Regions from separate parts of the Homo sapiens genome. Here region 2 is linked to region 1. The links come from fine-mapping of genetic effects on gene expression. A gene starts in region 1. The other region holds a variant in brackets. All regions are shown on one strand. Distances are from middle to middle.

Region 1 (5,511 bases):
AATAGCAAGCATAATATTCAAGTGATTTTCCACGTCTGATGGAAGAATACAATGGAGAAAGAAAGAAGAGAAAGAGAAAAGAAGGAAGAGCTAGCAGGCAGAGGGGTGGAGTGTGTCCAGAAGTTTGTACTAGCCTGGATCGCTAGCCAAGTCCAGCCGCTTTAACTGAGCCCTGGCAATCAAAACACCACTGAGGATGAAGGAAGCAAAAGAAAAGATCAAATAAAAATTAAATGCTCCATTCTGGGAAATCAGCAGGTCATAGATTCTTTCCCTAATAGGAAATCCATTACTAGTCAAATACTCCACCAGAGAAACCACTCCGAGTGCAGGAAACAGATGCACTCCTCATTCCCACAGCCCTGGTTTCCAAGCCCTGGGTGGTTTCTCTTTGTGATTCCATTAGAAAGGGCACAGCAATATCACAGCACTGGTGGAAGGGTCGGCACTGCCGCTCCACCGCGGGAAGCTGAAACACCAGCCTGGATCTCTCTTCCATGTGCTGAAATGCAGTAGGAACACCGCGGGGGGCAAAGACCCCCCTGAGCTCAGCAGAGGCCCCTCTATGAGGTGCCCAAGGGGTGGTTTGTATCTGTGGGGGCTCAGCAGGGACTGTGAGAAACAAGGTTATAGCAAGCTACCAGCTGGAAACTAACACAAGGGTGACACGCGGAAATGATCAACTGTTGGGGGGGGAATCTGGTCCCCTCAGAGATGCCAGCCCTGGCTCCCGGACTGGGACTCCAGTCTTGGGGGCAGATGGACGGGCTGAAGATAGCAGAGATGCTCCGAGGAGCAGGCCTGGGAGAACAGTGTAGAGTGTGTGTTTGTACACTTGGGGCACAAACTTACCCCGTGTGTGTCCCTACCCTCTGAGCCCTTCTGCCCCTGGCCAGTTCCCAGTGTGTCCCCATCCCCTGCCATCTCTCCTCCAGGATCCTTTCTCTCCCTCCCCTCCCAAACGACCACATATTTAAGACCTAGAAAAGGATCTTAAATATCACAACACTCAGGGCCCTTTCTCCCTCCTCACTGTCCCAGCAGGGTCCCAGTTCCCTGGAAACCCAGGTGCCCACCCTCTTATTTGACCTCAGGACCTCCTCCCACATAATACTGGCTTCCCGCCAAGTCTCTGTCCCCCTTCCCCAGTCAGGCCTCAGTTCCCCACCAACCTCGGTTTCCGCCCCTCCCTGGGGTAACCTCCCAGGTCTCTGTCTTCTCTCCTCCACCCCACATCAGGGGTCAGGTTCCCACCCCTACTCCACACCCCACCCCAGGTCTCTGCCCCTGCCTGCTAGGTACCCTCCCAGGTCTCTGCCTTCTCTCCTACCCCCACCATCAGGGGTCAGTGCCCTCCACACTCGAATGTTGCTGCCCCCTGCCCAGTCGGGAAACTTCCCAGGTCTCTGCCTTCTCCTCCTCCAGCAATCGGGGATTAACGCCCCTCTGCCCTTCCCCTCCTCCTGCCCAGCCAGACACCCTCCCAGGTCTGAATTCTCTCCCCCTACCAGCAATCGGGGTCAGCTCCGCTCTAGCTCTCCCCCTGTCCAGCCAGACACCCTCCCAGGTTTCTGTCTTCTCTCTTACCCCCATCAGGGGCCAATTCCTCACCCCTCGACTGTGGCTTCCTCCTGCCCAGCCAGGAACCCTCGCTGATCTCTGTTTTCTCCTCCCCTACAAGTAATCGGGGGTCAGCTACCCTCTGTCCATCCCCCTGCCCGGCCAGGCACCCTCCCAGGTCTGTGTCTTCTCCTCCCCCCGCAATCGGGGGTCAATGCCCCTCTGCCCTTCCCCTCCTCCTGCCCAGCCAGACACCCTCCTAGGTCTGTGTCTTCTCTTCCCCTACCAGCAATCAGGGGTCAGCTCCCCTCTGCCCATCCCCACCCACTCCCCGGCCAGGCACCTCCCAGGTCTCCTCCCTGCATTGGGTCAGTTCCGTCCCCTCCCCTCCTCGGTCAGACCACCCACCCCCCGCCCGGGTCTGTCCCCTCTCGCTGCCCTCCTCGTGGCGCCCCCATCAGGGGCTGACCCCCCCGACCCCGCACAGGCCCAGGCCCAAACCCAGGCCCCCTCCCACTTCAGGAGCCCCCTCCCGCTCCCGCCGACAGACACCGTTGGCTGCAGAGACGTCTCAGCCGGAGCCCCGGAGCCCGCATCCCGCCCGGTGCCTAACCTGAGGCCGCCCCGCCTGCTTCTCCCGGCGCCGCGGCTTCCCTCAGGCCGGGGTTCCAGGTTGGGGCTGGGACTGGGGCCGGGCCGGGCGCACGCGGCGGGAGAAGGGGTAGGCGGGGTCCCGGCCAGGCTGCAGGGGCCGGGACTGGCGGGGGCTGGCGCGGCGGGGCAGTTACCTGTACTGCGGGCCGCCGCCCTGCGCGAAGTCGAAATACTGACTCGTCGCCATCTTGGCGTCTTCCCCGAGCCTGGCGGACCCGCGACGTCACCCGCCCCGCCCCCGAGCCGCGTGCCGCTCGCGCCTGGCCACGCGCCCCAAGCTCCGCCCCCTGCGCGAAGCCCTCACCTTCTCGCTTCCTTCTCTTAGGCTAGGGAGACACCGCCCCGCGACCACACCTGCCCCGAGGCCCCGCCTCCTACGCAGAGCCCCGCCCTCCTCTTAACCACTCAAATGTGGAGGTCTCTGCTCAAGCCCCGCCCATGCTAGAAGCCCTGCCTCTTTCTCGGAGCCCCACATTCCCTTTAACCACTCAGATGTGGTGGTATCTGATCAAGTCCCGCCCATGCTACAAGCCCCGCCTCTTACTCAGAGCCCTGCCTTCCCTTTACCCACTCAGATGTGATCTCTGCTCAACCCCCACCCATGCCACAAGCCCCGCCTTTTTTTGGAACCGTACCTTCCCTTTAACCATTCAGGTGTGGAGGTCTCTGCTCAAGCCCCACCCATGCCACAAGCCCCGCCTCTTTCTCGGAGCCCCGCCTTCCCTTTACCTGCTCAGATATGGTCTCTGCACAAGCCCTACCTCTGTCTCCGAGCCCCACCTTCTCTTTAACCACTCAGATGTGGAGGTCTCTGCTCAAGCCCCACCACCACCACAGCCAGCTAATTTTTAAATTTTTTGTAGAGACAGTGTCTTGCTATGTTGCCCAGGCTGATGTTGAACTCCTGGCCTCAAATAATCTTGCCTTGGCCTCCAAAAGTGCTGGGATTACAGACGTGAGCCACTGCATCTAGCCTCAGAATGACTCTTCAGAAGGCCCCCATGGTCTCTGCCTCCTGTGTTCACAACGTGATATAAATAAATGATAGGCCGGGCACAGTGGCTCACGTCTGTAATCCCAACATTTTGAGAGGCGGAGGCAGGAGGATCTTGAGCCCTAGGACTTTGAGACTAGCCTGGGCAACATAGCAAGACCCTGTTTCTACAATTTTTTTTTAATTAGCTGGTCATGGTGGTACATGCCTGTGGTCCCAGCTACTCAGGAGGCTAAGGTGGGAGGATCACTTGAGCCTGGGCTGTCAAGGCTGCAGTGATCTGTGACTGTACCACTGCACTCCAGAGTGAGACCCTGTCTCAAAAAAGAGAAAAGAAAGAAAGGGCTGGGCGTGGTGGCTCACGCCTGTAATCCCAGCACTTTGGGAAGGCGAGGTGGGCAGCTCACCCAAGGTCAGGAGTTCAAGAGCAGCCTAGCCAACATGGCAAAACCCTGTCTCTACTAAAAATACAAAAAAAAAAATTAGCCAGGCGTGGTGGGGCACACCTGTAATCCCAGCTACTCGGGAGGCTGAGGCAGGAGAATTACCTAACCCAGGAGGTGGAGGATGCAGCGAGCCGAGATCACACCACTGTACTCCAGCCTGGGCAACAGAGCAATACACCGTCTCAAAAAAATAAAAAAATAAAAAATAAAAAAATAAATAAATAAATAATAAAAGAGGAGAGGGAGAGGAGCAGGGAGGGAGGGAAGGGAAGGAAAGAAGAGAGAGAGAGAGAGAGAGAGAAAGAATTGAATGAATAAACAAATAAATGGAGGCAAACAGACAAATCTCTTATGCAGAAGAATTCCTAATTTGTGTAGCTACACTGCGCTTAAGGAGATAGAGAGTAACTCTACACCTCTTGAGTGTGGGTTGTGCATAGTGACTTCCTTCCCAAGACTGCAGCCTGGAAGGAGGGGGAGGGAGAGTCACTTGACAGTATTGAAACCTGACAAGCAGCAGCGTGTTTGGCGGTCCCGCGGATCCGTCTCTTGCTTCCACAGTGTTTGGATGGAACAGATCCGGGAACTCACTTCCAGCCTCCGACCACCCGCTGATTTCCTCTCTTCTTGCAACCTCCAGGAGCATCGGCTCAGCCATCTCCTGCTTCTCGGACCAACCAACGCCGTTTTTTTGGTTAGCTCCTTCTTGCCGACCAACCATGAGCTCCCAGATTCGTCAGAATTATTCCACCGCGGTGGAGGCAGCCGTCAACCGCCTGGTCAGTTTGCACCTGCGGGCCTCCTACACCTCCTCCCTCTGCGGGTTTTTTTTTTTTTTTTTTTGCTTGTTTTTTTTTTGAGACGGAGTCTGGCTCTGTCGCCCAGGCTGGAGTGCAGTGGTGCGATCTCTGCTCACTGCAAGCTCCGCCTCCTAGGTTCACGCCATTCTCCCGCCTCAGCCTCCCGAGTAGCTGGGACTACAGGCGCCCACCACCACGCCTGGCTAATTTTTTTGTATTTTTAGTAGAGACGGGGTTTCACCGTGTTAGCCAGGATGGTCTCGATCTCCCGACCTCATGATCCGCCTGCCTCGGCCTCCCAAAGTGCTGGGATTACAGGCGTGAGCCATCGTCTGCGCTTCTATTTCGATCACCAAGATGTGGCTCCGGAATGCGGGGCTTACTTCTTCCATGAATTGGCCAAGGAGAAGCGCAAGGGTGTTGAGCGTCTCCTGAAGATGCAAAACCAGCGTGGTGGCCCTGCTGTCTTCCAGGACATCCTGAAGCCAGGTCAAGATGAGTGGGGTAAAACCCTGGAAGCCATGGAAGCCGCCATGGCCCCGGGGAAAAATCTCAACCAGAGTCTTTTGGATCTTCATGCACTGGGTTCCGCCCCTACAGACCCCCATCTCTGTGACTTCCTGGAGAGTCACTTCCGAGATGAGGAAGTGGGCTGCACGCGGTGGCTCACACCTGTAATCCCTGCACTTTGGGAGACCGAGGCAGGCAGATCACCTGAGGTCAGGAGTTTGAGACCAGCCTGGCCAACATGGCGAAACTCCAGTTCTTCTAAAAATACAAAAATTAGCCGGGCGTGGTGAGCTACTCAAGAGGCTGAGGCATGAGAATCGCTTGAACCCAAGAGGCAGGGGATGCAGTGAGCCGAGATCACGCTACTGCACTCCAGCCTGGGGAATAGAGTGAGGCTCTCCAAAAAAAAAAGAAGAAGAAGATGGGTGACCACCTGACCAACCTCCACAGGCTGGCCGGCCCGGAAGCTGGGGGGCCCAGAGGCTGGGCTGCATGAGTATCTCTTAGAAAAGCCGACTCTCAAACACGGCTAGGAACCTACTGAGCC
Region 2 (5,000 bases), 47 kb before region 1:
TCGGGCTGCGGGGACAGGTGCTTCTGAGAAGAGACAGTAGTAGCCACAGAGGCATGAGGCTCCCCAAGGGAGGCGACCACCCGGGGCTCCAGGAAGCAGAAGGGATCTCTGTGGCCAGTGGCAGGGGCTGGGGTGCTGGGGCTCCCATCTGTGGAGTGAGGAGGCCTGGGCCATGGAGCCCCATCCCCTGAGTACTATGTGGGAGTTGGGGGGAGGCCGGGTCCTCCCGAGGAGGTGTCCGCTGCTCCGGGGAGTGTGAGGTCGCCCGCGTTTGCACACAGAGGAAACTGTACCTACCTGGAGTGGGGCGCTGGCGGGTGACTCCGGCCTGCCCATGAGCAGAGGCTGGGCCCAGTCGGGCGGCGCGTGGGGCGGCACGTCCTGGGGTGGCTCCTCCTCCAGCCGCCTGCAGGACCGAGACGTGACAGAGCATGGTCAGGCCAGCAGTGGCCCTAAGCTGGGGGCAAGTCAGAAACACTGGGGCCTTATGCTCCCAGCAAGGAAGGAAGGGCCAAAGCTCTTGCTGGGGCTCCACTGCACTGCATGGGTGCCTGCTGTATGCACAGAAGACTGAGGCTGGGAAGGCTGGTGTGGGGGGCAGCCAAAGACACCCCTTAGGCAAATGAGGCCCAGCCCGGGCAGCCATGGCCTTCAGGAGGTCCTGGTTCCCTTCCCAATGCAGACCTGCTGCTGCTGGACACACCAGAGTCAGATGTTACATCAGAAAATGCTCTAGGATGGACACAGGGGACACTGGGAATGAGGGGACGCTAGGGGATCAGGGGGACACAGGAGACTCCAGGGGTCAAGGGGACTCAGGGGATACCAAGGGTAAGGGGACACAGGGTCATCAGGGGTCAGGAGACACAGGAACACCAGGGGACAGAGGGACACCAGGGGTCAGGGGGACTCCAGGGGTCAGGGGTCACATGGCACACTAGAGGTCGGGGGACACAGGGACACCGGGGGTCGGGGGACACAGGGACACTAGAGGTCGGGGGACACAGGGACACTAGAGGTCGGGGGACACAGGGACACCGGGGGTCGGGGGACACAGGGACACTAGAGGTCGGTGGACACAGGGACACTAGAGGTCGGGGGACACAGGGACACTAGAGGTCGGGGACACAGGGACACCGGGGGTCGGGGGACACAGGTCACAAGGCACCTCTGCAGCCGTGTGGTCCAGCGAGTTGGCCGGCAGTGTCCCTGCGTCTACGGAGGCCCTGGAGCCCACGTGTCAGGTCCGCACGCCACTGTGCCCTTGCCCGTCTGCTCTGGAACCCTCTCACGCTCCCACACCAGGACGTGCCCACTGCCCGGGCACCCGTCTCCCCCCACTGCTCGAGAGCTCACACGGAGGAGCTCCGTAATCTGCAGCAGTGGGCGTCTAGGTTCCACGCTGGACCTGCCCTCCCTCACCAGGCCCCCTTGCCAAGACCCGCAGCCGGGCACCTCCTCTCCGCGTGCCAGCGCCGCAGCTGCTCCAGCCGCTCCTCCGCCAGGTGCCGCTGCTTCCTCATGCGCTCCTCCAGGACCTTCCGAGCCCGGCTGCTGGGCTCCGTGGCAATGGGAAGGTCCGGGTTCACTTTCTTCTGGAAAGGACAGGCAAGGCTCTGAGAGTAGGGACCTTGCTTTAGACAGGGATGCCAGGAGGATCTTGGGGTGCAGGGAGAGGCCCAGAGACTAGAACTGTTGGGCTGAAAAATCTCCCAAAGCCTTTTTTTTTTTTTTTTTTTTTTTTTCGAGACAGAGTCTTGCTCTTGTCTCCCAGGCTGGAGTGCAATGGTGTGACCTCGGCTCACTGCAACCTCCGCCTCCCGGGTTCAAGCGATTCTCCTGCCTCAGCCTCCCGAGTAGCTGGGATTACAGGTGCGCACCACCACACCTGGCTAATTTTTGTATTTTTAGTAAAGATTTCACTATGTTGGCCAGGCTGGTCTCGAACTCCTGACCTCAAATGATCCACCCAACTTGGCCTCCCAAAGTGCTGGGATGATAGACGTGAGACACCGCGCCCGGCCGAAGATACACTTTTGAGACGAGGACCAAGACGTTGAAAACCCAGAAAATCACCCCTCCCTCTTAAGTTCGTCGGATCACACGCGCGGAAGAGGCCCGACCA[C/G]AGGCCTCCCAGCGCCCGCCGGGCCCTAGCACAGCCCGGACGGGTGTCGGAGCTCCCCCTGCTGGACGCACCCGGTACTGCAGCCGGTGCCGCCGCCCCCTCACGTGCAGGTCCTTCGCGTTAAGGTCGTTGAAACTGCACTCGCACAGCTTGCAGTGGAAGCGAAGCACTCGCCCTTCGTCGCTGAACACCTGAGACACAGAACAGCCGCACGCGCACCAGGCACGAGGCGGGGTGGGATGTGAGATGCTACCGCTGCCAGGTCGCGGCGGAGCCTTCCTCCTTGCTGCTCATTTTATTTATGTATGTCTTTTTAGAGACAGCGTCTTGCTGTGTCACCCAAGCTGGAGTGGAGTACAGTGGCTCGGTCTTGGCTCACTGCAGCCTCAAACTCCTGGGCTCAAGCGATCCTCCCACCTCAGCCTCCCGAGTAGCTGGGACCACAGGCACACGCCACCATGGGAGGCTGGAGGATTGCTTGAGCCCAAGAGTTCAAGACCAGCCTGGTCAACATAGCGAGACCCCCATCTCTACAAAAAAAATAAAAAATACAAAAATTAGCTGGGAGTGGTGGCTCATGCCTGTAGTCCCAGCTACTCAGGAGACTGAGGTGGGAGGATTGATTGAGCCCAGAAGTTTGAGGTTGCAGTGAGCCATGATGGCACCACTGTGCTCCAGCCTCGGTGACACAGCAAGACCCTTTCTCTTAAAAGAATCCCAGGCCTACAGGCAAGGCAGAGGAAACCCAGCCCTGCCTCTTTGGCACGCACAAGGCCAACCGGGGTCTGAACTGCCGCTGGCCTGGGAGCTGGCAGACCTGGCCCAGGAGCTCGGCTCCACTGCTCACCAGCCTGACCTTGGCAGGTCCCAGGGTCCCGCAGGCCCAGGAAAGGGGCTAGACAGAAGGGCTTCCAACCTCCCGGGGAGCTTTCTACTGCCCAGATCCCTTCCACCTTCCAGACAGACGGCTCCGCAGGGTCCCCTGTTGGGAATGCCTCGGCCTGTCTCTGGCCCTCACGGGGCCATATTCATTTCCTGCTGATACCAAAATCCGGCACCCAAAGTGTCAAGCGGGTCTGCACGGGGTTTTGGTCCATGGAGGTCTGGCCTGTGCAGCTCAGGAACGGGGATGGGTCTGTAAATCTCGCTGGGAGAAGCCGGGTGAGGTCTCGAAGCCTGATCCATGGGAAGGTCCTTCCCTGACCGGGGCACCAGGACTTGACAGCCTCGACTTACCTCCTCCACATATTCCGGGCCCACCGGCTGCGCATCAGAGCAGCCCGCGGGAGCTTCCTTTGAGCCTCCTTGGGTAGGTGCTCCGGGACCCTCTAATTTAGGTTGGGCTGGTTTCCCCCACTGGGGTCTGCAGCCTGCTGCCTGTGGCTCAGGAGGCCCTGAGGGGAAAAACCATGTCACTTATACCCTGTTCCAGGAGAAAGCACTGCAGCTGCAGACCCGCCAGGCGGCATGGGGTGGAGAGCCACCCAGACTGCAGGCTGTGCCATCCCCCTCCCTCCTGTGATGTCAGGGGGAATGGCCCCGGACAGCAACCTCGCTCTCCCTTTCATGCCTGCGTGTGACCCAGCCAAGAAACCGAGGCCAATTTCAATCCATCCGGGGAGAAGCCCTGGTTTTAGGCCCTCGCTTGAGGAACCCACCGACAGCACAAAATCCACAGTTAATAGACCATGAAGTATCAGGCGGACCAAGGCTCGCACTTAACCTACCCCCGTTAGGCGAAATGATGGAGCCTCGGGGGGAGACAAATATCTTTGTTATAAGAATGACTTGATGGTTTGATCTTCAAAATCATGTTGCTATTCAAGAATCAACGCTGCTGAGGCTAAAAATAGAATGTGGCTCCCTCGACCCCTGCCCACGCACAGCACGGTGGTCCAGGGCAGAGACTCTTAGACAGACCCGGGTTCCAATTCCACCTCCACCGTTTACGGCTTTTCCATCTACACATTGGGACTGGTGACAACATTGACTCAAATGAGTTGTGGGCTGGGCACAGTGGCTCATGCCTGTAAACCCAGTGCTGCGGGAGGCCGAGTTGGGAGGATCGCTTAAGCCTAGGAGTTTCCGACCAGCCCCAGCAACATAGCAGAACCCCACCTCTACAAAAAAAAATACAAAAAGTAGTGGGATGTGGTGGTGCACACCTGTAGTCCCAGTTACTCAGGAGGCTGAGCTGGGAGGATCGCTTGAGCCCAGGAGGTGGAGGCTGCAGTGAGCTATGATTGCACCTCTGCACTCCAGCCCGGGTGACACAGTGAGACTCTGTCTCAAAAACAAAACAAAACAAACCACGAAAAAAGAGTTGTCGTGGAGGTAAAGCGAAGCAATGCACACAAAGCAGTGAGCAGACGCCTGGCATGTAATCCTAGTTAACGCGGGTCAGCTCTGACAGCTGGGGCTTTGCACGCAGGGAAGGTAGGGTCACAGGCAGAGGGGTGTGAGGATTCCACCTTCATTTCCTGGTACCCATATAACTCTGATTCTGAGCCCAATTTGTTCACCGTGAGCACCAGGGCATGCAGGGGAGCACAGTGGAGGTGGCAGCCCAGGGAACCCTGTAGGTGCAGGGTGAGGGCTTCCAGAGAACCCCAGCACCCGGCACCAGGCCAGATTCTACCAGAAGAGGCCGGGCGCAGTGGCTTACGCCTGTGATCCCAGCACTTTGGAATGCCGAGGCTGGTGGATCACTTGAGGTCAGGAGTTCGAGACCAGCCTGGCCAACATGGTGAAACCCTGTCTCTACGAAAAATACAAAAATTAGCCGGGCGTGGTGGTGCATGCCTATAGTCCCAGCTACTCAGGAGGCTGAGGCAGGAGAATCGCTTGAACCCAGGAGGCAGAGGTTGCAGTGAGC

Evidence for each region. PIP is the estimated chance that this variant, and not a neighbour inherited with it, causes the effect.
Region 2: its variant is fine-mapped to the expression of ZFR2 in whole blood (TOPMed, PIP above 0.99). The same link has a PIP of 0.9 or more in blood mononuclear cells.

Annotation. Positions count from the first base shown.
Region 1 is chr19:3,866,617-3,872,127 of GRCh38, forward strand. It overlaps ZFR2 (zinc finger RNA binding protein 2), which reads right to left and starts at 2,422. Exons shown (of 19, transcript NM_015174.2): 1 at 2,349-2,422. The coding sequence starts at 2,401. It also overlaps the pseudogene FTLP5. RefSeq lists an enhancer at 4,509-5,008.
Region 2 is chr19:3,819,885-3,824,884 of GRCh38, forward strand. It overlaps ZFR2 (zinc finger RNA binding protein 2), which reads right to left. Exons shown (of 19, transcript NM_015174.2): 8 at 3,362-3,519; 9 at 2,197-2,316; 10 at 1,456-1,595; 11 at 298-406. Among named protein-coding and RNA genes, the nearest start is that of MATK, 36 kb to the left of the region's middle. RefSeq lists an enhancer at 1,916-2,075. The variant C/G (reference allele first, on the strand shown) is at 2,126.